7 linked regions of the Homo sapiens genome follow. The protein of the gene in region 1 purifies or fractionates together with the protein of each later gene. This does not show direct contact. Each region holds a gene or a part of one and is shown in the gene's direction. Other genes may lie near its edges.

What was found.
Region 2: the proteins of CST9L (region 1) and SUSD1 purify together in Homo sapiens (affinity purification with mass spectrometry; one large-scale study listed by BioGRID and IntAct). This does not show direct contact.
Region 3: the proteins of CST9L (region 1) and SEMA4D purify together in Homo sapiens (affinity purification with mass spectrometry; one large-scale study listed by BioGRID and IntAct). This does not show direct contact.
Region 4: the proteins of CST9L (region 1) and SEMA4B purify together in Homo sapiens (affinity purification with mass spectrometry; one large-scale study listed by BioGRID and IntAct). This does not show direct contact.
Region 5: the proteins of CST9L (region 1) and NPTXR purify together in Homo sapiens (affinity purification with mass spectrometry; one large-scale study listed by BioGRID and IntAct). This does not show direct contact.
Region 6: the proteins of CST9L (region 1) and SEMA6B purify together in Homo sapiens (affinity purification with mass spectrometry; one large-scale study listed by BioGRID and IntAct). This does not show direct contact.
Region 7: the proteins of CST9L (region 1) and ITGA7 purify together in Homo sapiens (affinity purification with mass spectrometry; one large-scale study listed by BioGRID and IntAct). This does not show direct contact.

What each region holds. Positions count from the first base shown.
Region 1 is NC_000020.11:23,565,685-23,569,682, reverse strand, and holds the start of CST9L (cystatin-9-like precursor), read left to right. Parts: upstream 1-1,198; 5' UTR 1,199-1,232; coding exon 1,233-1,472; intron 1,473-3,595; coding exon 3,596-3,709; intron 3,710-3,998.
Region 2 is NC_000009.12:112,098,798-112,102,297, reverse strand, and holds part of SUSD1 (sushi domain-containing protein 1 isoform 2 precursor), read left to right. Parts: intron 1-12; coding exon 13-122; intron 123-3,500.
Region 3 is NC_000009.12:89,376,735-89,379,924, reverse strand, and holds the end of SEMA4D (semaphorin-4D isoform 1 precursor), read left to right. Parts: intron 1-295; coding exon 296-1,221; 3' UTR 1,222-2,690; downstream 2,691-3,190. UniProt on the Homo sapiens protein: Cell surface receptor for PLXNB1 and PLXNB2 that plays an important role in cell-cell signaling. Regulates GABAergic synapse development. Promotes the development of inhibitory synapses in a PLXNB1-dependent manner.
Region 4 is NC_000015.10:90,204,330-90,207,829, forward strand, and holds part of SEMA4B (semaphorin-4B isoform 1 precursor), read left to right. Parts: intron 1-2,152; exon of another isoform or gene 2,153-2,659; intron 2,660-3,500. UniProt on the Homo sapiens protein: Inhibits axonal extension by providing local signals to specify territories inaccessible for growing axons.
Region 5 is NC_000022.11:38,827,029-38,830,528, reverse strand, and holds part of NPTXR (neuronal pentraxin receptor precursor), read left to right. Parts: intron 1-2,016; coding exon 2,017-2,242; intron 2,243-3,500. UniProt on the Homo sapiens protein: May be involved in mediating uptake of synaptic material during synapse remodeling or in mediating the synaptic clustering of AMPA glutamate receptors at a subset of excitatory synapses.
Region 6 is NC_000019.10:4,542,685-4,546,184, reverse strand, and holds part of SEMA6B (semaphorin-6B precursor), read left to right. Parts: intron 1-1,655; coding exon 1,656-2,584; 3' UTR 2,585-3,500. UniProt on the Homo sapiens protein: Functions as a cell surface repellent for mossy fibers of developing neurons in the hippocampus where it plays a role in axon guidance.
Region 7 is NC_000012.12:55,701,405-55,704,904, reverse strand, and holds part of ITGA7 (integrin alpha-7 isoform 2 precursor), read left to right. Parts: intron 1-1,726; coding exon 1,727-1,854; intron 1,855-1,953; coding exon 1,954-2,033; intron 2,034-3,484; exon of another isoform or gene 3,485-3,488; coding exon of another isoform or gene 3,489-3,500. UniProt on the Homo sapiens protein: Integrin alpha-7/beta-1 is the primary laminin receptor on skeletal myoblasts and adult myofibers.

The sequences.
Region 1 (3,998 bases):
TGGGAACATGGTATGGGACACAGTCAGAACAGTTCTTGTAGAATCAGTCTCCCTGACTTGGGACTGAACTTTCTATTCTGTTATCTGGCAACAATGCTAGGTTCTTGCCTATATTGCAGCACCATAGTCTTCTCAGCCAAACTCAAAGCTCTCACTTTTGCATACTTCACCTGTCCTGCACTATTTAATGTTCATTCTTACAGCAACAAAATATTATTATTTCCTCTTTCAGGTTAGTTATTGCCAGGAAATTGATTTAAAAGTAACCACCTAGTATCACCTAAGTGCTGGCAAAATAGCTCACTCTAGAACACCAAGAAGGATGGTCAGATGGAGACAAAAATGATCAAGGGGCTGAAGAATGGTCCAACCTCTATCTCACTGAGGCAGAAACATGTGATCTCCCAGAGAAGTGTTTAAAAATTTGGTCTAGAATGATATTCCAGTCTAATAAAACATGAGTGTGTGTGGTGGGGCTGCAGATGTAGGGCGGTGGGCCCTGTAGAAACCTTGGCTCTGGCTCAGCTGGAACCAGGGCTGACAAGGTTTAGAAATGCAAGCAGGGCTGGGCTGGGCATGACCAGGCTGGGGCCTCAGGACTTGGGTCTCTGTCTTTCCTGCCCTTTTCTCACAATACTCATTGTCCATCCCAGGTCAAAATGGTTGATAAAAATTGCCATTTATTTTTTTCATTTTTTCCCTTGGTTCACAGAGTACAACTGTTGAGGTATTATACAACAAAAGAACAAACTGATATCTTAGTTATTTTTCTGAACAACGGAGATCCTCTCTTCGACGGGGTGAAGGAGGGGAGAGTGAGAGTCGAGATGTCCCCAGGTCTTATCTCAGTTCGCTGTGGGAGGCGAAGGCACAGAATCATCCAAGGACACCAAGCACCTGAGGACAACCAGAACCTGTGGGTTCTGAAGGAGCAGCCTTCAAAGCTAGTGGCAGAGGGTAGCTCCCCTCCTGCCTGTGGCTTGTGCTGGCCTAGAGAGTATAGGGCAGAAGGATGGCAGATGAGTGACTCCACATCCAGAGCTGCCTCCCTTTAATCCAGGATCCTGTCCTTCCTGTCCTGTAGGAGTGCCTGTTGCCAGTGTGGGGTGAGACAAGTTTGTCCCACAGGGCTGTCTGAGCAGATAAGATTAAGGGCTGGGTCTGTGCTCAATTAACTCCTGTGGGCACGGGGGCTGGGAAGAGCAAAGTCAGCGGTGCCTACAGTCAGCACCATGCTGGGCCTGCCGTGGAAGGGAGGTCTGTCCTGGGCGCTGCTGCTGCTTCTCTTAGGCTCCCAGATCCTGCTGATCTATGCCTGGCATTTCCACGAGCAAAGGGACTGTGATGAACACAATGTCATGGCTCGTTACCTCCCTGCCACAGTGGAGTTTGCTGTCCACACATTCAACCAACAGAGCAAGGACTACTATGCCTACAGACTGGGGCACATCTTGAATTCCTGGAAGGAGCAGGTTGGTGACCACGTACCCTCCTGCCCTGGCATCTGGCATGTGCTGCTCAGTGAAAAATGGGAGTGGGGTGGGGACAGGGGGTCTTATTGAAGAGTCTTGTTCACCAGTTGTAGTCCATACTTAAGAAAATACAAGGTAGTTTAGTTAGTTTTTGATTTTGAAAACATCTAAGTTAGAAATTTCAAATAATTTGATCCTAATCAACTCTCATGAAAAACATATTGTTTAATCTCCATCTTTTTATGACATTATTTAACTGAAGAATGACTTCAAAATGAGGACTACCAAGAAAATGAAGATACGGAATAAGGAAAAGGGCTGAACAGAAAATGTGAATAGAGAGAAATTGAGAAATACTTCCAAAAAATGTAATAAAAAAGAGATAATTTAAAAAATGAAAATTAAAAAAGAGAACAGTAAGGGTTCAGGAGCAATAAGAAACCCCCACCAGTCCCAAAAGACCTCTGGGTGGTCAGTTCCTCTTTGCTGATTTCCAACTTCTCTGAGCTCCTTGGTGTGTCTGCACTTAATAAACTGAAGACTGTTTCACACTCTTCCTCAGACCACAGGTCTTAATCCTAAATGTTCTCCTTTTAATGAAGTCACTACAGAATGCAATCAGGAATGCACAGTTCATCTGTGCTGTAGGCATGAACAATGAAAATAGTCACCAAGTTGAGGACTTTTTTTTTTTTTTTTTTTTGAGATGGAATCTTGCTCTGTCACCCAGGCTAGAGTACAGTGGCGTCATCTCCGCTCACTGCAAGATCCGCCTCCCAGGTTCAAGTGATTCTCCTGCCTCAGCCTCCCAAATAACTGGGATTACAGGCACCCGCCAGATGCCTGGTTAATTTTTTGTATTTTTAGTAGAGACAGGGTTTCACTATGTTGGCCAGGCTGGTCTTGAACTCCTGACCTCATGATCTGCCCACCTCGGCCTCCCAAAGTGCTGGGATTACAGGCATGAGCCACTGCACCCAGCTAAGTTGAGGACTTCTAGTTGGGTAGAGAGGCAAAAATGCTCTTCCTACCTCATTACTGAAACCTTGCAAGAAGAGCAAAAGGACCCCAACCCTGCACCAAGCTTCAGCCTCTGGAAAGACCCTGTGCAAGGCCCTGGCTGGTTCTCTGACCCCTGCTCTCTGGGCTGGAGCCTGCCACGTGGGTTCCTGGATGTGACAATTCCAGAGTCAGTTTTGGAGTTGGGGAAATGGACGGATAGGGAGAAAGGAGATGGAATGAAGTGAAACTGAAAGGAGTGAGAAGATCAAGGTGCACTTTGCAATAGGGCAGATGGTGTTTCTTTCTTTCTTTCTTTCTTTTGATATGGAGTCTCACCCTGTCAACCAGGCTGGAGTGCAATGGCACAATCTCAGCTCCCTGCAACCTCTGCCTCCCGGGTTCAAACAATTCTCCTGCCTCAGCCTCCCTCCCGAGTAGCTGGGATTACAAGCACCTGCCACCATGCCCAGCTAACTTTTGTATTTTTAGTAGAGATGGGTTTTCACCATGTTGGCCAGGCTGGTCTCGAACTCCCGACCTCATTATTCACCCACCCCAGCCTCCAAAAGTGCTGGGATTACAGGTGTGAGCCACCACACCCGGCCCCAGATGGTGTTTCTTGAAGCCATTGTCCCAAGGATGTATGCCTGTGTGTAGTGGGAGTGCTGGGTGGCATTCTTGCATTTTTTTTTTCCTCAGGTCAGGTGGAAGGTTTGACAACATGCCCTAGATGAGGCTCCCTCTGTCCCAGGGCTGAGGTTACCCTGAAAGCTCTTGGAGAGCCAAACCCCTCCCCAGGCACATAGCGCCATCCTCTGGAAATGCAGCTGCAGGTTCAGACACTGACTGAGAGTGAAACTGGGGTCTCACCATGGGAGAGTGGGAAGTGCATCTGGAAATAGGGATACATTCATGGGTGTCTGCCCTGGGGCCACCATGCCCATCCGCTTTTTGTTCTTAACTGCCCAATCTAAAGAAGATCTCCTGATGCCAGGCCCATGGGCAAGCTCCCTAATGGAGGAGAATGTTGGGACTTCTCCTACACAAATGACATCTTCACCAGCAGCTACTTAGGGGCAACAAGGAGGGTGTGTTCACATTAATCTCTCTGTGTGCAATAGGTGGAGTCCAAGACTGTATTCTCAATGGAGCTACTGCTGGGGAGAACTAGGTGTGGGAAATTTGAAGACGACATTGACAACTGCCATTTCCAAGAAAGCACAGAGCTGAACAATGTAAGACAGGACACCAGCTTCCCTCCTGGATACAGCTGTGGATGCCACATGGGGTGTGGTGTGGGCACAGGTGCAACTGACAAAGAGACTTAGAGGAGTGAGCCTGCAGCAGCCTCTACCAGGCTGCCCTGCTTGTGCCTTAGTGGGGAGCGCAGAGGGGCAGGCAGCTAGGGGTCCACTTGCAGGCTCCTGGCCAATCTGAGTTTATCAACTCTGCCCTGTCATGCCACTGCAGCTGCCTGCACCCAGGGCACATGGCCTTCAGACTGCTCTTTCCCCCTGGGGTCCC
Region 2 (3,500 bases), on another chromosome or scaffold:
CTTGTCTTTTAGAAGTTGATCTCTTAGAAGATGATGGAAGTTTCAATATTTCAATATTTAATGAAACTTGTTTGAAATTGAACAGGCGTTCTAGGAAAGTTGGATCAGAACACATGTACCAAGTAAGGAGATCTCTTATGCTTTCCATTAAAGAATTGTGTCATTTAAAAATTTGGGCGATCTCCAAGTAAGTATCCAAAGTATTTAAAAATGAATGAACTTCTAGACAGTTTGTGATTGTTGTTTCTAGAGATGGATGTAAGATGTGAGATGGGTGTAAATGAGGTACTAACTTGAAGAAAGATACTATATTTGGTGACTTGCTATCATTTTCTGTGCCTGGCATTTCAAGCTTATATTTTATTTTAATGCATTAAACAATACAGCTTATTTTGCTATCAGATTCACATTTGGGCATGGAATTTATTTTTATTTTTTATTTTTATTTTTTGAGACTGAGTTTCGCTCTTGTTGCCCAGGCTGGAGTGCAGTGGCATGATCTCGGCTCACTGCAATCTCTGCCTCCGGGGTTCAAGCGATTCTCTTGCGTCAGCCTTCCTGAGTAGCTGGGATTGCAGGCATGAGCCACCACGCCCAGCTAATTTTGTATTTTTAGTAGAGATGGGGTTTCTCCATGTTGGTCAGGCTGGTCTCAAACTCCCAGCCTCAGATGATCTGCCCTCCTCGGCCTCCCAAAGTGCTAGGATTACAGGCGTGAGCCACCACGCCCAGCTGGGCATGGAATTTTAAGGAACTCTTTGGATGGCTATTGACCCTCATTTAACTTGATTTTTTCTTAAACATCATCAGTAAAATTGTAAGTAAATTCAGGCAGGAACTGAGATTTATTTTGTGTCATTTTTAGTGCCTAGCAAGTCATCTGGTAGAGAGCAAACTCAGTAAGTATTACATTAAAAAAATTTTTTTTTCTTTTTTGAGACCGAGTCTTGCTCTGTTACCCAGGTTGGAGTGCAGGGAGGCGATCTTGGCTCACTGCGACCTCCACCTTCCAAATTCAAGCGACTCTCGTGCCTCAGCCTCCCAAGTAGCTGAGATTATAGGTGTGCACCACTATGCCCTGCTGATTTTTGTATTTTTATTAGAGATGTCGTGTCACCATATTGGCTAGGCTGGTCTCAAACTCCTGACCTCAAGTGATCCACCCGCCTCAGCTTCCCTAGGTGCTGGGATTACAGGTGTGAGCCACCGCGCCCAGGCCAAAATTAATTAATTTATTCTATTTACCAGAAGTATATCACATATTAGGACTTGGAAGTTTCCAATTCAAACTGATAGAAATATATAGGTAAATAGGCAACTACAATATGGTATAATGAGTGCTTTGACAAAAAGTAAATTAATAATGGAATAATAAAAGTAAATAAGTATAAAAATAGAGATTTTATTTGTGTGTGTGTGTGTGTGTGTGTGTGTGTGTGTCCAGGTACAATTTTTTTGTTTTTTTTGAGATGGAGTCTTGCTCTGTCGTCCAGGCTGGAGTACAGTGGCATGATCTTGGCTCACTGCAGCCTCCCTCTCCCAGGTTCAAGCAATTCTCCTGCCTCAGCCTCCCTAGTAGCTGGGATTCCAGGCATGCCCCACCATGCCCAGCTAATTTTTGTATTTTTGGTAAAGATGGGGTTTTGCCATGTTGGCCAGGCTGGTCTCAAACACCTGACCTCAGGTGATCCAGCTGCCTTGGCTTCCCAAAGTGCTGGGATTACAGGTGTGAGCTACTTGCCAGGCCAGGTACAATTTTTTTAACCAGAAGCAAAGACTGTTATACTGAGTCATAGAAAGTAAGTAGGAATTGGCCAGGCGTGGTGGCTCACGCCTGTAATCCCAGCACTCTGGGAGGCCAAGGCGGGTGGATCACGAGGTCAGGAGATCGAGACCATCCTGGCTAACACGGTGAAACCCCATCTCTACTAAAAATACAAAAAATTAGCCAGGCGTGGTGGCGGGCACCTGTAGTCCCAGCTACTTGGGAGGCTGAGGCAGGAGAATGGTGTAAACCTGGGAGGTGGAGCTTGCAGTGAGCCAAGATCGCACCACTGTACTCCAGCCTGGGCGACAGAGCAAGACTCCGTCTAAAAAAACAACAACAAAAAAATTAGATAAAGGTTAATTTGTGTGACATGTGAAACACTTTTAAATTGACTGGAAAAAAGTCAATATTTAAAAGCGGTTTGCTAAAGAAAATAGACGTATTGCCTAAACACGCATGAACACATTATGCCTCACTAGTAAGTGGTCCAGAAGAATAGGGGACTGCCAGACCGTGGAGGAGCAGCTCTGACGATAGCATAGTCTAGGTTGTGGCCATGGATATGGGTGGCCAAAGTGGAGTGAAGGAAGTTCATAGCATTGAGCTCAAAGAACTCTGAGGCCAACATTTGATGGTTTATCTGTAAGGACCTTTAAGTTATCCAAGAGAATTCAAAGAGTTTGAGAGAGAAGAATCCTTATGAACCACCTGTCAGGGTCTTGGATGACTGTCAAAATTGATAAGAGAAGAGTTAGTGATTGATGGGAATAAGGAGGGATTGAGGGTGGTATAGACAATGGTGCTAGCATCAGTGGCAACACCGAGCATATGTCTCCACCAGCTAATGCACCCTAACTGATCAAGGGCTGATCATATTACTTATAGGACCTTCACGAAAGTTTTTTCCCTATAATTCCCTGCTGGAGCTGGCAGTGCGTAGAGGATGGTTAGGTGACAGTGTGTGATATGACTCCATGGATCAAAAGCCCTTTTACCAGAGGTCTAATAGGAAGGGTCCAGTGAAGTACCATGGCATTTGCTTTGAATGCATAATCTGGGGTGGTCCCCATATGTTTTTGTTTTTTTTTTCTTCCATGGGTAGGGTTAAGGAACCCACCTAGTTTAAGTACTCTGTTCTATGAGGCTTGTCCATGGATTTCTTACAATGAAAAGAAACTAAAAGAATTTTGGTTGGGTGCAATGGCTCACACTTGTAATCCCAGCACTTTGGGAGGCTGAGGTGGGCTTGAGGCCAAGAGTTTGAGACCAGCCTGGGCAACAAAGTAAGATCCTGTCTTTACAAATTAATTGTAAAAATAATTACCCAGGTGTGGTGGTGCATGCCTGTAGTTCCAACTACTCGGGAGGCTGAGGATCACTTCAGTCCAGGAGTTTGAGATTGCTGTGAACTAAGATTGTGCCACTGCACTCCAGCCTGGGTGACAGAACAAGACCCTGTCTCAGAAAAGAGACAGAGAGAGAGAGAGAGAGAGAGAGAGAGAGAGAGAGAGAGAACGAAGTATTCAGAAGGGAAGGAGGAAAAAAAATAATTTTGCCCATTAGCTCCAATGTAATCTCTTTCACTTGCGTTATAATCAAGGGATTATTTTGGAATAGACTAATATTTTCTTCATCTGAGATGTAGTTATGCATATTAAGCTTGGTCCTATACCTGATTGTGAGGACAGGTAAGGTAGCTTTGTCAAGTCCTTCCTCAGGTTAGCTTGCTATT
Region 3 (3,190 bases), on another chromosome or scaffold:
AGAACTGGCCTCTGCTCAGCTTCCCCAGCCTGACGCGTTTTCTTCTGGGACACGGGTGAGAAATGGGATTTCTGCTGCTCAGAGCTGCCTCCAATTTCTTTGTCCCCATGGGCTGTCATCCAGGGCTCATCTTTGCTTTTTGGTCACGCATGTCTTTATCTCCTTAGTTGTTCTGGAAGATTCCATGTTGCTACAGTGGGTGAAACTCTTGCGTCATCTTGTGGGTATTTTAAAGAAGTTGTTAAATAGCAAATGGGGATTGTTGACGCTGTGCACGTTTATTTTGATGTTCCAGATAAAAGTAAAGGAAGTTACCGGCAGCATTTTTTCAAGCACGGTGGCACAGCGGAACTGAAATGCTCCCAAAAATCCAACCTGGCCCGGGTCTTTTGGAAGTTCCAGAATGGCGTGTTGAAGGCCGAGAGCCCCAAGTACGGTCTTATGGGCAGAAAAAACTTGCTCATCTTCAACTTGTCAGAAGGAGACAGTGGGGTGTACCAGTGCCTGTCAGAGGAGAGGGTTAAGAACAAAACGGTCTTCCAAGTGGTCGCCAAGCACGTCCTGGAAGTGAAGGTGGTTCCAAAGCCCGTAGTGGCCCCCACCTTGTCAGTTGTTCAGACAGAAGGTAGTAGGATTGCCACCAAAGTGTTGGTGGCATCCACCCAAGGGTCTTCTCCCCCAACCCCAGCCGTGCAGGCCACCTCCTCCGGGGCCATCACCCTTCCTCCCAAGCCTGCGCCCACCGGCACATCCTGCGAACCAAAGATCGTCATCAACACGGTCCCCCAGCTCCACTCGGAGAAAACCATGTATCTTAAGTCCAGCGACAACCGCCTCCTCATGTCCCTCTTCCTCTTCTTCTTTGTTCTCTTCCTCTGCCTCTTTTTCTACAACTGCTATAAGGGATACCTGCCCAGACAGTGCTTGAAATTCCGCTCGGCCCTACTAATTGGGAAGAAGAAGCCCAAGTCAGATTTCTGTGACCGTGAGCAGAGCCTGAAGGAGACGTTAGTAGAGCCAGGGAGCTTCTCCCAGCAGAATGGGGAGCACCCCAAGCCAGCCCTGGACACCGGCTATGAGACCGAGCAAGACACCATCACCAGCAAAGTCCCCACGGATAGGGAGGACTCACAGAGGATCGACGACCTTTCTGCCAGGGACAAGCCCTTTGACGTCAAGTGTGAGCTGAAGTTCGCTGACTCAGACGCAGATGGAGACTGAGGCCGGCTGTGCATCCCCGCTGGTGCCTCGGCTGCGACGTGTCCAGGCGTGGAGAGTTTTGTGTTTCTCCTGTTCAGTATCCGAGTCTCGTGCAGTGCTGCGTAGGTTAGCCCGCATCGTGCAGACAACCTCAGTCCTCTTGTCTATTTTCTCTTGGGTTGAGCCTGTGACTTGGTTTCTCTTTGTCCTTTTGGAAAAATGACAAGCATTGCATCCCAGTCTTGTGTTCCGAAGTCAGTCGGAGTACTTGAAGAAGGCCCACGGGCGGCACGGAGTTCCTGAGCCCTTTCTGTAGTGGGGGAAAGGTGGCTGGACCTCTGTTGGCTGAGAAGAGCATCCCTTCAGCTTCCCCTCCCCGTAGCAGCCACTAAAAGATTATTTAATTCCAGATTGGAAATGACATTTTAGTTTATCAGATTGGTAACTTATCGCCTGTTGTCCAGATTGGCACGAACCTTTTCTTCCACTTAATTATTTTTTTAGGATTTTGCTTTGATTGTGTTTATGTCATGGGTCATTTTTTTTTAGTTACAGAAGCAGTTGTGTTAATATTTAGAAGAAGATGTATATCTTCCAGATTTTGTTATATATTTGGCATAAAATACGGCTTACGTTGCTTAAGATTCTCAGGGATAAACTTCCTTTTGCTAAATGCATTCTTTCTGCTTTTAGAAATGTAGACATAAACACTCCCCGGAGCCCACTCACCTTTTTTCTTTTTCTTTTTTTTTTTTTAACTTTATTCCTTGAGGGAAGCATTGTTTTTGGAGAGATTTTCTTTCTGTACTTCGTTTTACTTTTCTTTTTTTTTAACTTTTACTCTCTCGAAGAAGAGGACCTTCCCACATCCACGAGGTGGGTTTTGAGCAAGGGAAGGTAGCCTGGATGAGCTGAGTGGAGCCAGGCTGGCCCAGAGCTGAGATGGGAGTGCGGTACAATCTGGAGCCCACAGCTGTCGGTCAGAACCTCCTGTGAGACAGATGGAACCTTCACAAGGGCGCCTTTGGTTCTCTGAACATCTCCTTTCTCTTCTTGCTTCAATTGCTTACCCACTGCCTGCCCAGACTTTCTATCCAGCCTCACTGAGCTGCCCACTACTGGAAGGGAACTGGGCCTCGGTGGCCGGGGCCGCGAGCTGTGACCACAGCACCCTCAAGCATACGGCGCTGTTCCTGCCACTGTCCTGAAGATGTGAATGGGTGGTACGATTTCAACACTGGTTAATTTCACACTCCATCTCCCCGCTTTGTAAATACCCATCGGGAAGAGACTTTTTTTCCATGGTGAAGAGCAATAAACTCTGGATGTTTGTGCGCGTGTGTGGACAGTCTTATCTTCCAGCATGATAGGATTTGACCATTTTGGTGTAAACATTTGTGTTTTATAAGATTTACCTTGTTTTTATTTTTCTACTTTGAATTGTATACATTTGGAAAGTACCCAAATAAATGAGAAGCTTCTATCCTTGATTTGGGGAAGACATTCCTTAGCGGAGGCTGTGCAGCCTCCCGCCCCTGCATGGCCCAGGCGGGACAGCTGGGCTCGCTCTTTTCTGTCCGTTTCCTGCTGTGTTTTGCCCTCTCTGGCCTGTGACGTGCTCCTGGCGACTTCTTCCTCAGTGCCCTCTCTTTTCTGTCCTCTCTGTCTCACAGCCTCGTCTCCTAAGCCCCTCCCTCCTCCTGGCTCCTCTTCCCTGTCCTGTCTGGGCCATGTGGGGGACAGGAGGCTTTCCTCTCCCTGGACCCCCTGGCCAGCCTCGGGTGCGGGGCCCGACAGCAGCTCGAGGGTCTCCTTGCTGCCGCCCTTCCTGAGTGACCAGGCACAGCACGTGCACGCCCTGGGGAACTTCTACCTCTTCTGCCAGGCCACAGGTGAGTTGGGCCCTCTCTGTCCCCTGTGCCCTGTCCATCTGTCTCCTCCCACAGGTGGGGGGCGGGCGGGGGCATCCTCCACATCCCTCCACATGTTC
Region 4 (3,500 bases), on another chromosome or scaffold:
CTATGTCTGTGGTTTAAAACAAAATCCCTTGAAGTGGAGCGTCCAGCTTGCCCTGCATCTGGGGTCCTTCATAGGGAACCCTAATTATTGTTGATGAACAGCACATTCCTGGGGTGCTTAAGATGCAGGGAGCCGATTTGTGGCCTCGCCCAGTGGCCAGTAGGGAGAGGAGGATGAGGGGACAGCCACTGGGGGCTCCACAGTCAGCTGGAAATCTCTGAAAGGAACACTTCAAAGAAGTGTGTGGAATTTGGGTTCTCTTGCGTTGGAACTACCATGCAGAGCTCCAGGACCAAAGCCTCGGTCAGGAGCAGGAGTGGTGCTGAGTAGAAACAATGGCGCCCAGTGCTTCCCAGCCTGGCCACGTGGGGAGAAACAAAACACGCCTCCTCTCATGGCCCTCCAAAGTCTTTTTGGGCCACCTTATTTGGACACTTAATGGGAGTTATTATTATTGTTATTTTGAGATGGAGTTTCGCTCTGTCTCCCAGGCTGGAGTACAGTGATGCCATCTCCGCTCACTGCAGCCTCCACCTCCCAAGTTCAAGTGATTCTCCTGCCTCAGCCTCTCGAGCAGCTGAGACTACAGGTGCCCGCCACCATGCTTAGCTAATTTTTGTATTTTTGTAGAGATGGGATTTCACCATGTTGTCCAGGCTGGTCTCGAACTTCTGACCTTAGGTGATCTGCCCATCTTGGCCTCCCAAAGTGCTGGGATTACAGGCATGAGCCACCACATCCGGCCTTAAAGGGAGTTATTAATTCCCTCCTGCCCCAGAAGTGCCGGGCGGGAAAGCTCTGGACGCAGTATTTCTGAAGCAGATTGGACAGAAATCTGCAGGCCTGCAAACTGCAGTCAACAAAACGCCATTGAGCAGAGAGAATGGAGCATTTGGCACAAATCAGCTGCTTGCCCTCTGGCCCTGGAGGAGGCAGCCAGGGTCAAGGCTGCCCTGGGAAGCCCTGATGCTGGTCGCTTGTTGAGCCCTCAGCCCGGTTACTGGCTTCCCTCCTTGACATGGTCTCAACTGGACATGAGCCTTTGTCCCCAGCTCTGTCCTATGGGCCAGCATCTCTTTGGCTCTGCAGAGGTGAGTGGAAGGCGCTCTAACTGCGGATGCTCAGAGCCTGGCTTTGTAAAGTAGCTTGCCACCCTTACTAACTGCACAACCTTGGGCAAGCTCCTGGCCTTCTCCAGGCCCATTTTCACATTAGCAAGAGAGGAATAATGGCCATCTTCACAGTGTTCTGAGAGGATTACATGAAATAATGTATGTAAAGTGTTTGGCATGGTGCCTGGCACATGCTGCATCCGTAGTAAAAAGGTAGCTTCTGCTCTGGTGTGCTAGAAACCCCCTGCCAGCCTTGCTTGGTGAGGTTATTTGCATCCATTTTTGTGCACACTGGTGGTATGCAGGCCCTCTGCTAGGTGCCAAGCCTTGTCAGGCTTAGTGCCTGCCCTGGTAGAAAAGACAAAGCAAGGCCCCCAGGAGCTGATTGGAGGTCATTACCAGGGGTCCTGCTTAATTATAGCCCAGTTATTAAGTGCTCCTGATTCAGCCTTTTCAAAGTCCTCCTTTGCCTGAAGAACCTCCTCTGCATGGGGCTGGACCATGCCTCTCCCTGCCTGCCCTTCACTGGTTCTGCTCTGCCTTCAGCACAACCCACATCCAGCTGGTGTTGAAATACCTCTGTGCCAACCCAGGAGAGCGCTAAACTTGCACAACTTTTGGGGCATATCTGGATATACCAGCATGTTCATCCTCTAGGCAAGAGACAGAGGGTGGCACGGGGCCTGGAGAAAAGGCTAGACTCGGGTCATGTCATCAATCACTCCTTCCTTTATCTTCTTAGAGCCTGTTGCCTCTCACTCCACCCCCATGGGTGCTCAGGCTGGCGCAGGACTCAGGGGGCCTCTGATGTGGCCCTCCCTGGGGATCGGGGCAACAGGAACAACACAACGCGAGACTCCTGTGGTCGAGGCCTGCCTTCCCTCAGATTAGCTTTTTGGGAAGTCTGCTCCCTTGGACTGCATTCTCCATGCTTTTCCCCAGCTGGTTTCCCTGCCCCTCCTCTTCACATTCTGACCTCCCTGTGCTGGATGTGGGACAGCTATCCTGTCTGTAAGATAAGATAATTAAAAGCCTGGTGGCTCTTTCCCTGCTGCCACCAAGTCATGCAGAGACGGAGGCTCAGGCTCAGTTGCGTTCAAGATTCGGCTTCACCCGTAACCCACTGCCATGGCCGAGGAAGGCATTGCTGCTGGAGGGGTAATGGACATTAATGCTGCTTTACAAGAGCTGTTGAAGACAGCCCTCATCCACGATGGCCTAGCACATGGAATTCGCAAAGCTACCAAAGCCTTAGACAAGCGCCAAGCCCATCTTTGTGTGCTTGCATCCAACGGTGATGAGACTGTGTATGTCAAGTTGGTGGAAGCCCTTTGTGCTGAGCACCAAATCAACCTAATTAAGGTTGATGACAAAAGAAACTGGGGGAATGGGTAGGTCTCTGTCAAATTGACAGAGAGGGGAAACCCCGTAAAGTGGTTGGTTGCAGTTGTATAGTAGTTAAGGACTATGGCAAGGAGTCTCAGGCCAAGCATGTCATCAGAGAGAACTTCTAATGCAAGAAATGAAGAAAATATCTTTGGCTCACAAAAAAAACAAAAAAAGCCTGGTGCCCACAGCGGCTCTATACTTATTAGCTCACCATCGACCCTCTTCTGGGCACTGAATACTGGAACACTAAGGGGTGGCTCCTGCCCTGTGGCAGAGATGGTCACAGAAGAGTAGAGTGGCTACAGAGTGATACACAGAGGTGGAGTGTTCTGTCCAGCTGCTAGAGTTCTGCCTCCCAGGCCTGTGATCTGACTTGTTGTGCATGGAAGCTCTATTCTGCACTCCTGGATCCATCTGGAAGCCCATCCTGTAGTCTTAACAGGCTTCCGAGAGGTGGGGGGCCTGTGGCGAGGGGGTTTCAGTGGGGATGGTAGGTAGGAGACAGAAGCCATCATTTTACCATACTCCTAAAGAGGAGCCAAATTAGCCAACTCGTGTCCTCTTTTTTGGCATCTTTTGGCCCATCCTCTAGGAAGGGGGCCAACTGGAAGAGCAAATAAAAGCGGCCATTGCGGTGCACTCCCTGTGTGCCAGGCACTGCTGTTGGATGTGGAAGTGCATTGCTTTATCTCATGCAGATGAGGAAACCAAAGCTCAGTGAAGCTAACTCATTATCAAGGTCATGCAGCTATAGAAGAGTTTGGGACCAAGCCTTGGGCCACAGTTCTCGATTCAGCAACCACATTCTTTCCATTAGAACAGCTGCCTCCTGCTTCACCTGTGAATCGTACAAAAGCAGCAAGATGACCCGGCTCAGCCCTTGAATAATTGCAGGTTATATTTTTCCATCTGTTAAAGAAATCTGTTGAGGTCAGTCTCTGGACGGGGCAGGGGATCCAGCCGAGGCCCCTGGTTGCATGGCCATAGTTGGGAAGAGGG
Region 5 (3,500 bases), on another chromosome or scaffold:
TCTGCTCCTGCTCCTGGTGTGATCTTAGTTAACTCACCCTAGTTTTCCTGCCCCTGAAATGGGGACACTGGCATGTTAAGTGGATTCAGAGAGGGAATGTTTGCAAGGTGTCTGCTAAGGCTCAGCCGGCAGCAAGAGCGTCCCATTCAGTCTTCCCACCTACCCCATGCACCCAAAACCATGCCCCCGGCACCCACTGTGGGCCAGGCTCTGGGCACTTCCCTTACACGCCATCATTTAATGCTGGCCAGCCCTGGAGGCTGAGCATTCCGTGTCTCCATCTTATAGAAGGGGAAAAATGATCTCGGAGTGTCAGCCCACCTGTCCCTACTCTCACGGGGCAGTGGCAGAGCCGAGGGCCGGTTCCTGCAACTCCTCAAAATGAGGTCACATTGCTGTCCACACTGGCAGCTCCCAAGTCTCGGGCACTGAGCATGGCAGTGGTCCTTTGCCCCCAGCACTCTGATGCAGGGGACGCACTTCTCCCCTTGTCCCATGGCTAGAAAACAGGCTCAGAGAAGTTAAGGAGGAGTGCACAGCTCAGAAGGAACACGCGGCCCTCAGTCACAGCAGCCACCAGCAGTGTCCAGTGTCACCCAGCAAATGACTGACAAGGCCATTGGCTGGGCCAGTGAGGCTGGACAGGGGATTCTATACTTGTCCCAGGCTGCAAGGCCATCCCCTCGCAGCTTAGGAAACTGAGGAAAGGTGGGGTTCTTGGTTTTCTGTTTTGCCTCCAGCCACAACTTCAGCATCTGGGGCAGTGCCCAGCACAATGGGGGTGCCCTCTGAATGTTTGCTCAGTGACTGAATCACAGAATGCAATGAGTTCGTGTCTGGGGCCTAAGCCTGGGAGCAAGGAACTGACTGAGCAAAAACTTCCCAGGCCCCTGGGGAGTTCGCAAGCATCAGGCCTGGTAGCGGGGACCATGGAGGAGGGGGAATCCAGGAGGATGGTGGAGGATGGTGAAGGTTTAATTTAGCTCCTAGCAGCTCATTGAATTATTAATCTCCTACTGACATTTCTGTGACATGTCTGCCACAGACTGTCCCCTTGAAGAGTCTGGACCTGCGGCCTCACCTGCGTTCCTCCACCCCAGAGGGGCCTTCTTCCAGCAGGAGAAGGGGAAGGAAACCCTCCCAGCTCCTGCCCCAGTTCTGCTGCCCTTGGGGTCTTAAGATAAGACAGGCATGTCATGGGGAACTCTGAACACTTAGACCTCATCCCGGGCTGGATGGGGGATGTCAGAGCCTACCCTGGAACACCCTGCCCTAGACAGCAATTGCAATAAGCAGGCTCTGTTTATTGATATTTAATCCTTAGTCCTCCCCACAACTCTCCAAATAGGTGCAGCTCTCTTTTGAGTAAACAAGTTCAGAGAAGTCAGGATATTTTCTCAGAGTCACATAGCAGATTGGTTACCGAGCTGGTTTTGAACCCTGGGCTGTCTGACTCCAAAGTATGTGATTTCAACCACCTGTCACCCTGGTATGGTCAAGCCACCGGGGCCCTGCTCCAGAAGTCCCTGTTTCACGCCCTGAGTGGGCCCAGTGGCCATACAGAGCCTTTTGCCAAGGACCGTTCTAGAGAAGCTTGCTGAGTGAGGGAATGAAGACTAAGATGGTCCGCCCCTTTACCAGCCTATCAGTGTCTAGCCTTGCTGCTATGAAGGACTAGGGTGGGGCGTTCAGCCCCAGCTGCACCCTGAAACCACCTGGGGGACCTTCACAGCACTCATGGCCACGCCCCACACCCCCACCACAGCCTGAGCTGTCCTTGAGGGCCGGGGCCAGCTCTGCCTGCTGCTCGCCGTCATGTGCCAGCACCAGGAACAGAGCCTGCCAGGGACCCAGGATGCATCTGTTGCCTGATGTTGGCCATTGTCATTCCCATTTTGCATACTGGGGAAGCTGAGGCTCCCCTGGGGTCACTGAGCAGGGGCGGTAGGCATCTGAGTGTTCCCAGCCTGTCCTTCCTCCCCTCAGTTGATTTCTGTTTCTCTGCCCTGTGAACAGCAGGAGCTTCCAGCCCGTGTGAACCTCTCAGCTGCCCCAGCCCCAGTCTCTGCTGTGCCCACCGGCCTACACTCCAAGATGGACCAGCTGGAGGGGCAGCTGCTGGCCCAGGTGCTGGCACTGGAGAAGGAGCGTGTGGCCCTCAGCCACAGCAGCCGCCGGCAGAGGCAGGAAGTGGAAAAGGAGTTGGACGTCCTGCAGGGTCGTGTGGCTGAGCTGGAGCACGGTGGGTCCTGGGTCCTGCAGAGGGCATTGGAGGGGTCCTCAGGATGACAGAGCCATTCAAAAAATATATCCATGCTCCCCGGAGGCTAACATCGACAGACTGGAGGGTGGGGAGGAGGCTGTGGAACACACAGTGGAGAGAATCATTGGGGGATATTGTTATCATTATCAACATTATTAACAGATCTCATTTTCTGGCACTTACTGTGTCCTGGGAGTGGGCTAAGTACTTGATACATCAGCTGATTTAATCCACAGTTTTCACAGATGAGAAGACCGAAGCTCAGAGAAGTCAAGTGACATGCTCAAGGTCACACAGACAAAAGTGGCGGGTCTGGACCTCAAACAAGGTCTGACTCCACAACCATACATTTAACCACCCACAAAATAGCATTTTCAATGACTTGGTCAGGATTTTGTTTAACACTTGTGCCTGGCACTGCCAAGGGGTCAAAGGAACATAATGGGCAGGGTACAGGTATAAGCATAAGGAGACCTGGCTCCTGGTTGCATATCTGTCTCTGGCTTGCTCTGTGACCTCAGAAGTTCACTTCCTTCCCCAGGCCTCAGTTTTCCTCATCTGAGAAATAGGGGTTTAGGACTCATGAGCTCTCAAAGACCTTTCAGCTTTCAATTCTTGTGAAGACCACCCTTAAGAGGCTTACAGACAAGTTGGGGAGAACAGGAGAAATGGTGAGCAGTTAGCTGGGACCAGCTTACATGGGGAACAGGGGTTCAGGAGAAGAAAATCCAGGCCCAGGCATGGTGGCTCATGCCTGTTATCCCGACACTTTGGGAGGTTGAGGTGGGCGGATCACCTGAGGTCAGGAGTTCAAGGCCAGCCTGCCCATCATGGCAAAACCCCATTTCTACTAAAAATGCAAAAATTAGCTGGGTGTGGTGGTGCATACCTGTAATCCCAGCTACTCGGGAGGCTGGGGCAGGAGAATTGCTTGAGCCTGGGAGGTGAAGGTCGCAGTGAGCTGGGCAACAGAGGGAAACTCCGTCTCAAAAAAAAAAAAAAAAAGAAAGAAAAAAAGAAAAAGAAAAGAAAAGAAAGAATATCCAAGCTGCTTCCTGGAGGAGGCAGGCCTCAAGCTACTTCTTGAAAACAGTGGTGAGGAGCAAATTTCAGAATGGAGGGGCCATCGCAGGGGCACAGCTGCAGGGGAGGGACAGGTCTGGTGGCTCAGGGCCAGCATCCTAGGTGGAGCACAGGAACAGGAGAAGCAACCTCCAGCCCTCCTCAGCCCTGCCTC
Region 6 (3,500 bases), on another chromosome or scaffold:
CATCCCCCACTACCATGGGGGAGGGGAGGGAGGAGGCTGGAGGACCCTCGAATCCTCTGGGAGGTGGGTGGGGAAACTGGACTCCATCAGAGAACTTTAGAAAGGCATGGGGTGGGCCGGGCGCGGTGGCTCACGCCTGTAATCCCAGCACTTTGGGAGGCCAAGGTGGGTGGATCACGAGGTCAGGAGATCTAGACCATCCTGGCTAACACGGTGAAACCCCGTCTCTACTAAAAATACAAAAAATTAGCCGGGCGTGGTGGCGGGCGCCTGTAGTCCCAGCTACTCGGGAGGCTGAGGCAGGAGAATGGCGTGAATCCGGGAGGCAGAGCCTGCAGTGAGCCAAGATCACGCCACTGCACTCCAGCCTGGACGACAGAGCAAGACTCCGTCTCAAAAAAAGAAAAGAAAGGCATGGGGTGGTCTCATCTCATTTATTGGGGAGGGAGATAGGGGAAGAACAGAGACACCAAGAAACAGGCAGGCTTTGGCAAGGACGAAGAGACAACAGAAGGCAGACAGACCAACTTCAACAGGACAGAAGGGGCCAGGCGCGGCAGCTCCTGCCTATAATCCCAGCATTTTGAGAGGCCAAGACAGGACGATCACTTGAGGTCAGGAGTTTGAGACCAGCCTGGGGAATATAGTGAAACCCTGTCTCTAAAACAAAAACCCAAAAATAATCCAGACGTGGCAGTGCATGCCTGTAGTTCCAGCTACTTGGGAGGCTGAGGCGGGAGGATCGCTTGAGCCCAGGGAGGTGGAGGCTGCAATGAGCTGTGATCAGGCCACTGTACTCCAGCTTGGGCAACAGAGTGAGAACATGTCTTTTTTTTTTTTTTTTGAGACAGAGTCTTGCTCTGTCACCCAGGCTGGAGTGCAGTAGTGTGATCTCAGCTCACTGCAACCTCCACCTCCCGGGTTCAATTGATTCTCCTGCCTCAGCCTCCCAAGTAGCTGAGATTACAGGCGCACACCACCATGTCCGGCTAAAATTTGTATTTTTAGTAGAGATGGGTTTCACTTGTTGGCCAGGCTGGTCTCAAACTTCTGACCTCAGGTGATCTCCTGCCTCAGCCTCACAAAATGCTAGGATTATGGGTGTGAGCCATCATGCCTGGCCCAGATCCTGTCTTTAATAAAACAAACAGGTAGCTGGAGGCAGGGTTGCAGTGAGCTTTACCACTGCACTCTAGCCTGGGGGACTGTCTCAAAACAAACAAACAAAAAAAATTAAAAAATAATAAAAATAAGGCCAGTCGTGGTGGCTTATGCCTGTAATCCCAGCACTTTGGGAGGCAGAGGTGGGCGGATCACAAGGTCAGGAGTTCAGACCAGCCTGGCCAACGTGGTGAAACCCCATCCTACTAAAAATACAAAAATTAGCCGGGCGTGGTGGTGGGCACCTGTGGTCCCAGCTACTCGGGAGGCTGAGGCAGGAGAATCACTTGAACATGGGAGGCGGAGGTTGCAGTGAATCGAGATCGCCCCACTGCACTCCAGCCTGGCACACAAAGGAAGACTCCTTCTCAAAAAATAAATAAATAAAAAAAAATAAAAATAATAAAAAAGAGGACAGAGGGCCCCGAGGAGGTAGGAGGGATGCCCAGGGCCACCCCGCCGGCCCCACTAACCCCCCTGTGCTCCCCGGCCAGGACTCCTGCGGGCCAGCCTCTCCGAGGACCGCGCGGGGCTGGTGTCGGTGAACCTGCTGGTAACGTCGTCGGTGGCGGCCTTCGTGGTGGGAGCCGTGGTGTCCGGCTTCAGCGTGGGCTGGTTCGTGGGCCTCCGTGAGCGGCGGGAGCTGGCCCGGCGCAAGGACAAGGAGGCCATCCTGGCGCACGGGGCGGGCGAGGCGGTGCTGAGCGTCAGCCGCCTGGGCGAGCGCAGGGCGCAGGGTCCCGGGGGCCGGGGCGGAGGCGGTGGCGGTGGCGCCGGGGTTCCCCCGGAGGCCCTGCTGGCGCCCCTGATGCAGAACGGCTGGGCCAAGGCCACGCTGCTGCAGGGCGGGCCCCACGACCTGGACTCGGGGCTGCTGCCCACGCCCGAGCAGACGCCGCTGCCGCAGAAGCGCCTGCCCACTCCGCACCCGCACCCCCACGCCCTGGGCCCCCGCGCCTGGGACCACGGCCACCCCCTGCTCCCGGCCTCCGCTTCATCCTCCCTCCTGCTGCTGGCGCCCGCCCGGGCCCCCGAGCAGCCCCCCGCGCCTGGGGAGCCGACCCCCGACGGCCGCCTCTATGCTGCCCGGCCCGGCCGCGCCTCCCACGGCGACTTCCCGCTCACCCCCCACGCCAGCCCGGACCGCCGGCGGGTGGTGTCCGCGCCCACGGGCCCCTTGGACCCAGCCTCAGCCGCCGATGGCCTCCCGCGGCCCTGGAGCCCGCCCCCGACGGGCAGCCTGAGGAGGCCACTGGGCCCCCACGCCCCTCCGGCCGCCACCCTGCGCCGCACCCACACGTTCAACAGCGGCGAGGCCCGGCCTGGGGACCGCCACCGCGGCTGCCACGCCCGGCCGGGCACAGACTTGGCCCACCTCCTCCCCTATGGGGGGGCGGACAGGACTGCGCCCCCCGTGCCCTAGGCCGGGGGCCCCCCGATGCCTTGGCAGTGCCAGCCACGGGAACCAGGAGCGAGAGACGGTGCCAGAACGCCGGGGCCCGGGGCAACTCCGAGTGGGTGCTCAAGTCCCCCCCGCGACCCACCCGCGGAGTGGGGGGCCCCCTCCGCCACAAGGAAGCACAACCAGCTCGCCCTCCCCCTACCCGGGGCCGCAGGACGCTGAGACGGTTTGGGGGTGGGTGGGCGGGAGGACTTTGCTATGGATTTGAGGTTGACCTTATGCGCGTAGGTTTTGGTTTTTTTTGCAGTTTTGGTTTCTTTTGCGGTTTTCTAACCAATTGCACAACTCCGTTCTCGGGGTGGCGGCAGGCAGGGGAGGCTTGGACGCCGGTGGGGAATGGGGGGCCACAGCTGCAGACCTAAGCCCTCCCCCACCCCTGGAAAGGTCCCTCCCCAACCCAGGCCCCTGGCGTGTGTGGGTGTGCGTGCGTGTGCGTGCCGTGTTCGTGTGCAAGGGGCCGGGGAGGTGGGCGTGTGTGTGCGTGCCAGCGAAGGCTGCTGTGGGCGTGTGTGTCAAGTGGGCCACGCGTGCAGGGTGTGTGTCCACGAGCGACGATCGTGGTGGCCCCAGCGGCCTGGGCGTTGGCTGAGCCGACGCTGGGGCTTCCAGAAGGCCCGGGGGTCTCCGAGGTGCCGGTTAGGAGTTTGAACCCCCCCCACTCTGCAGAGGGAAGCGGGGACAATGCCGGGGTTTCAGGCAGGAGACACGAGGAGGGCCTGCCCGGAAGTCACATCGGCAGCAGCTGTCTAAAGGGCTTGGGGGCCTGGGGGGCGGCGAAGGTGGGTGGGGCCCCTCTGTAAATACGGCCCCAGGGTGGTGAGAGAGTCCCATGCCACCCGTCCCCTTGTGACCTCCCCCCTCTGACCTCCAGCTGACC
Region 7 (3,500 bases), on another chromosome or scaffold:
ACTTGCCTGAAGGTTGCCATTTATTTATGCAGGGCTGTATCACCCCGTTTCCTTTTCTGCCCAGGGTACCCTCATCTCCCCACTCTCTCCTTCCCTTTCTGGGGTGGTCTCAGTGTTCTAGAGACAGGTCAGTCACTGGGTGGAGTGACAAAGTGTTGGAGTTAGGCCCATGTGGATTTGAATTCCAGCATCACTGCTTAATGTCTTTGAGTGAGTTTTCTCATCTGAAAGACAAGAAAAGAATCCTTATCTCATAGGATTGTTCTGATGATTAAATGACATAATGCATGTGACTTGCCTATCCTGGTGCTTGGCACATATGTGGACAGTGATGAATGTTAGTTTCTTATATCCCTGGTGTCTAGCCTCGGATCTGACGTCATAGTAGGTGCTGAATAAATATGATTTCCTTGTCTCACCAGCGCCTGACACAGGGCTTGGCATACAATAGACTCTCAATAAGTAGTTGAATGCCAAATGTGTCTTCTCTTCTCTACTACTCCCTATACCCCTTCTCTGTCTTGACACTGGCTCTGACAAGGGATGGCAGCTGCTAAGAGATGAGGAGGAGTTGTGGGAAGGAAGAATGGCTCTCTGCCCTCCCCCTCCACCCCATCAGAGCTGGCACAGTGCCCCACAGATGCCTGTCTGTAATACTGCCTAACATGGTTTTGGGCCTTGCCCCCCAGGAAGGGAGATGGAGGAGAAGAGTGTGGGAGAGAGGCGTTGAGGTTTGTCCCACTGCCACTTCTGAGTCTCTCCTTCTGCAAAGAGAGGACCCATGGAGCCAGCTGGGTGTCAGTCATCTTACCTCACCCCCGCCTTCACTCTGGCTTGGGGGTTCAGCCCCAGGGGACCCAGGCAGCCTCCATTCCCAGCACTGTGCTCCCCTGGGGAAGACGGCTTGGCTGTGATCATGGAAAATTGTCCTGCCAAGAAAGTTGTAGCTGGGAAAGAGGCTGAGGGGGAGGCAGGAGAGAAGACTGGGTGGGGGTGGAAGGGAAGGAGAAATCATGGACATGGGGAGAAGGAAGGATGGGGAAGGGGATTCAGGATGTCGGGAAGAGAATGGGGTAGCATTGGAGGCAGAAGGAGAAACTTGTCCCTACCTCCATGCCAGCCAGAGTGACTGATGGAATCCTGGGCTGGCACAGCTTCTGGGAGGTGGGGTCTTTGCTGGGTCCCTGATGAGGGGGCAGTGGGTCCGTATCTAGCCTCTTGCCTGGCCTCTGAAGCTGGTCCCTGAGCCACACTCTGATGCCAGTCTGGGGCCCTGTTACTTTTGCTCCCAGCATTCTTGGCATTTCTGGCTGGGTTTCAACTGGACTGGGTTGGGGAGCAGGGCAGAGCTTGGGGATGGGGCCAAGGAGGGGATAGGGAAGGCCTACTCAGGAACAGGTGCTGGGAACAGGCAGTTCTTTCAAACCAGCACTGTTGGCCTGGCTGCTTGGGTTGGCGTGTATGTGTGTGTGTGTGTGTGTGTGTGTATCTACTGTGTATGTTGATCCCTTATCCAGATAGTATGTACATGCAACGTGATGACTGCATGACCAAGCATATTAATTTGTCCTTGCCAGGGTTTGAGAAAACTGACATTTGCCCCTTCTCTTTAGTCCTTGAACACTCTCTTTAGTACTGAGGGGTTGGGCCTGGGCAGCTCTAATGAGATTGGGTCATTCTGACCTCTAACTCCTGTCCCTGTCCCTGCCCCTGCCCCATCTTGCAGGCTGCTGGTGGGTGCTCCCCAGGCCCTGGCTCTTCCTGGGCAGCAGGCGAATCGCACTGGAGGCCTCTTCGCTTGCCCGTTGAGCCTGGAGGAGACTGACTGCTACAGAGTGGACATCGACCAGGGAGGTGTGGCCCTGCATGAACAGAGTGGGGGAAGCGTGTGAGCGGGGAGGAGAGGACTTGGGCTCCTCTTCCCTCCCCTAATTCCCAGTGTCCTGCCTCTAGCTGATATGCAAAAGGAAAGCAAGGAGAACCAGTGGTTGGGAGTCAGTGTTCGGAGCCAGGGGCCTGGGGGCAAGATTGTTGTGAGTATTGCTTCTCATGACTGAATGCACGGATGGGGTGTGTGTGTGTGTGTGTTTATGGTGTGTGCATACGCATAGGTGTGCTTAGAGAACACAAGTTAGGAATATGGTATGATTCCAAGTACATCAGGGAGATATAAAAAGGTGTGAGACATGGTCCTTGTCCTTATAAATGTAAAAATGTCTGTCCATTCATTCATCCATCCATTTGTCAAACTCTTACTGAGAACCTTTTAAGCATCAGGCATTGTGCTAGTTACTACAGGGGAAGGCTCATGCCTGTAATCCCAGCACTTTCGGAGGCCGAGGCAGGTGGATCACCTGAGGTCAGGAGTTCGAGACCAGCCGGACCAACATGGCGAAACCCTGTCTCTCCTAAAAATACAAAAAAATTAGCCGGGCGTGGCCGGGTGCGGTGGCTCACGCTTGTAATCCCAGCACTTTGGGAGGCCGAGGTGGGTGGATCACGAGGTAAGGAGATCGAGACCATGGTGAAACCCCGTCTCTACTAAAAACACAAAAAATTAGCCGGGCGTGGTGGCGGGCGCCTGTAGTCCCAGCTACTCAGAGAGGCTGAGGCAGGAGAATGGCGTGAACCGGAGAGGCGGAGCTTGCAGTGAGCTGAGATCGCGCCACTGCGCTCCAGCCTGGGTGACAGAGCGAGACTCCGTCTCAAAAAAAAAAAAAAATTAGCTAGGTGTGGTGGCAGGCGCCTGTAATCCCAGGTACTCGGGAGGCTGAGGTAGGAGAATCACTTGAACCTGGGTGGAGGAGGTTGCAGTGAGCTGAGATCGCACCATTGTACCCTAGCCTGGGAGACAAGAGCAAAGTTCCGTCTCAAAACCAACCAAACAAACAAACGAAAAAACCAGAGCTCTCTGTTTCTCTCTCTCTCTCTATCTTTCAGTAACACGCATAGATACACAATTACCAATACAGATCACTGTGGGGCAGAATCTGGTTCATGTTAAGTGAGTGGTCTAGTCTCCAGTCTATAAAAGTCCAAAGGAGGAGTAGAGAGAAGACTTCTGCAGAGGGGATGATTTGAGCCAGGCTTTAATAATAGGTAATACCTAGCCTGTGCAACATAGTGGGACCTCATCTTTATAAAAAATAAAAACAAATTAGCCAGTCATGGTGGTGCATGCCTGTAGTCCCAGCTACACAGGAGGCTGAGGTGGGAGGATCACTTGAGCCCTGGAGGTCGAGGCTGCAGTGAGCCATGATTGTGCCACTGCACTCCAGCCTGGGTGACAGAGTGAGACCTTGCTTCAAAAAAAAAAAAAAAGTAATACTTGGAGAGTGAAGCGGACAGGAAGTTCTTTGCAGATGAGATGGTGACACTTACAAAGGTCCAGGGACAGGGCCAAGCTTGGCATTTTGGAGGACTGTGACATGATCAGGGAGACACACATCCTATGTGGTGGCTTAATTGTGTCTTTTGGCTCCAGGCAGAATGTGGAACAA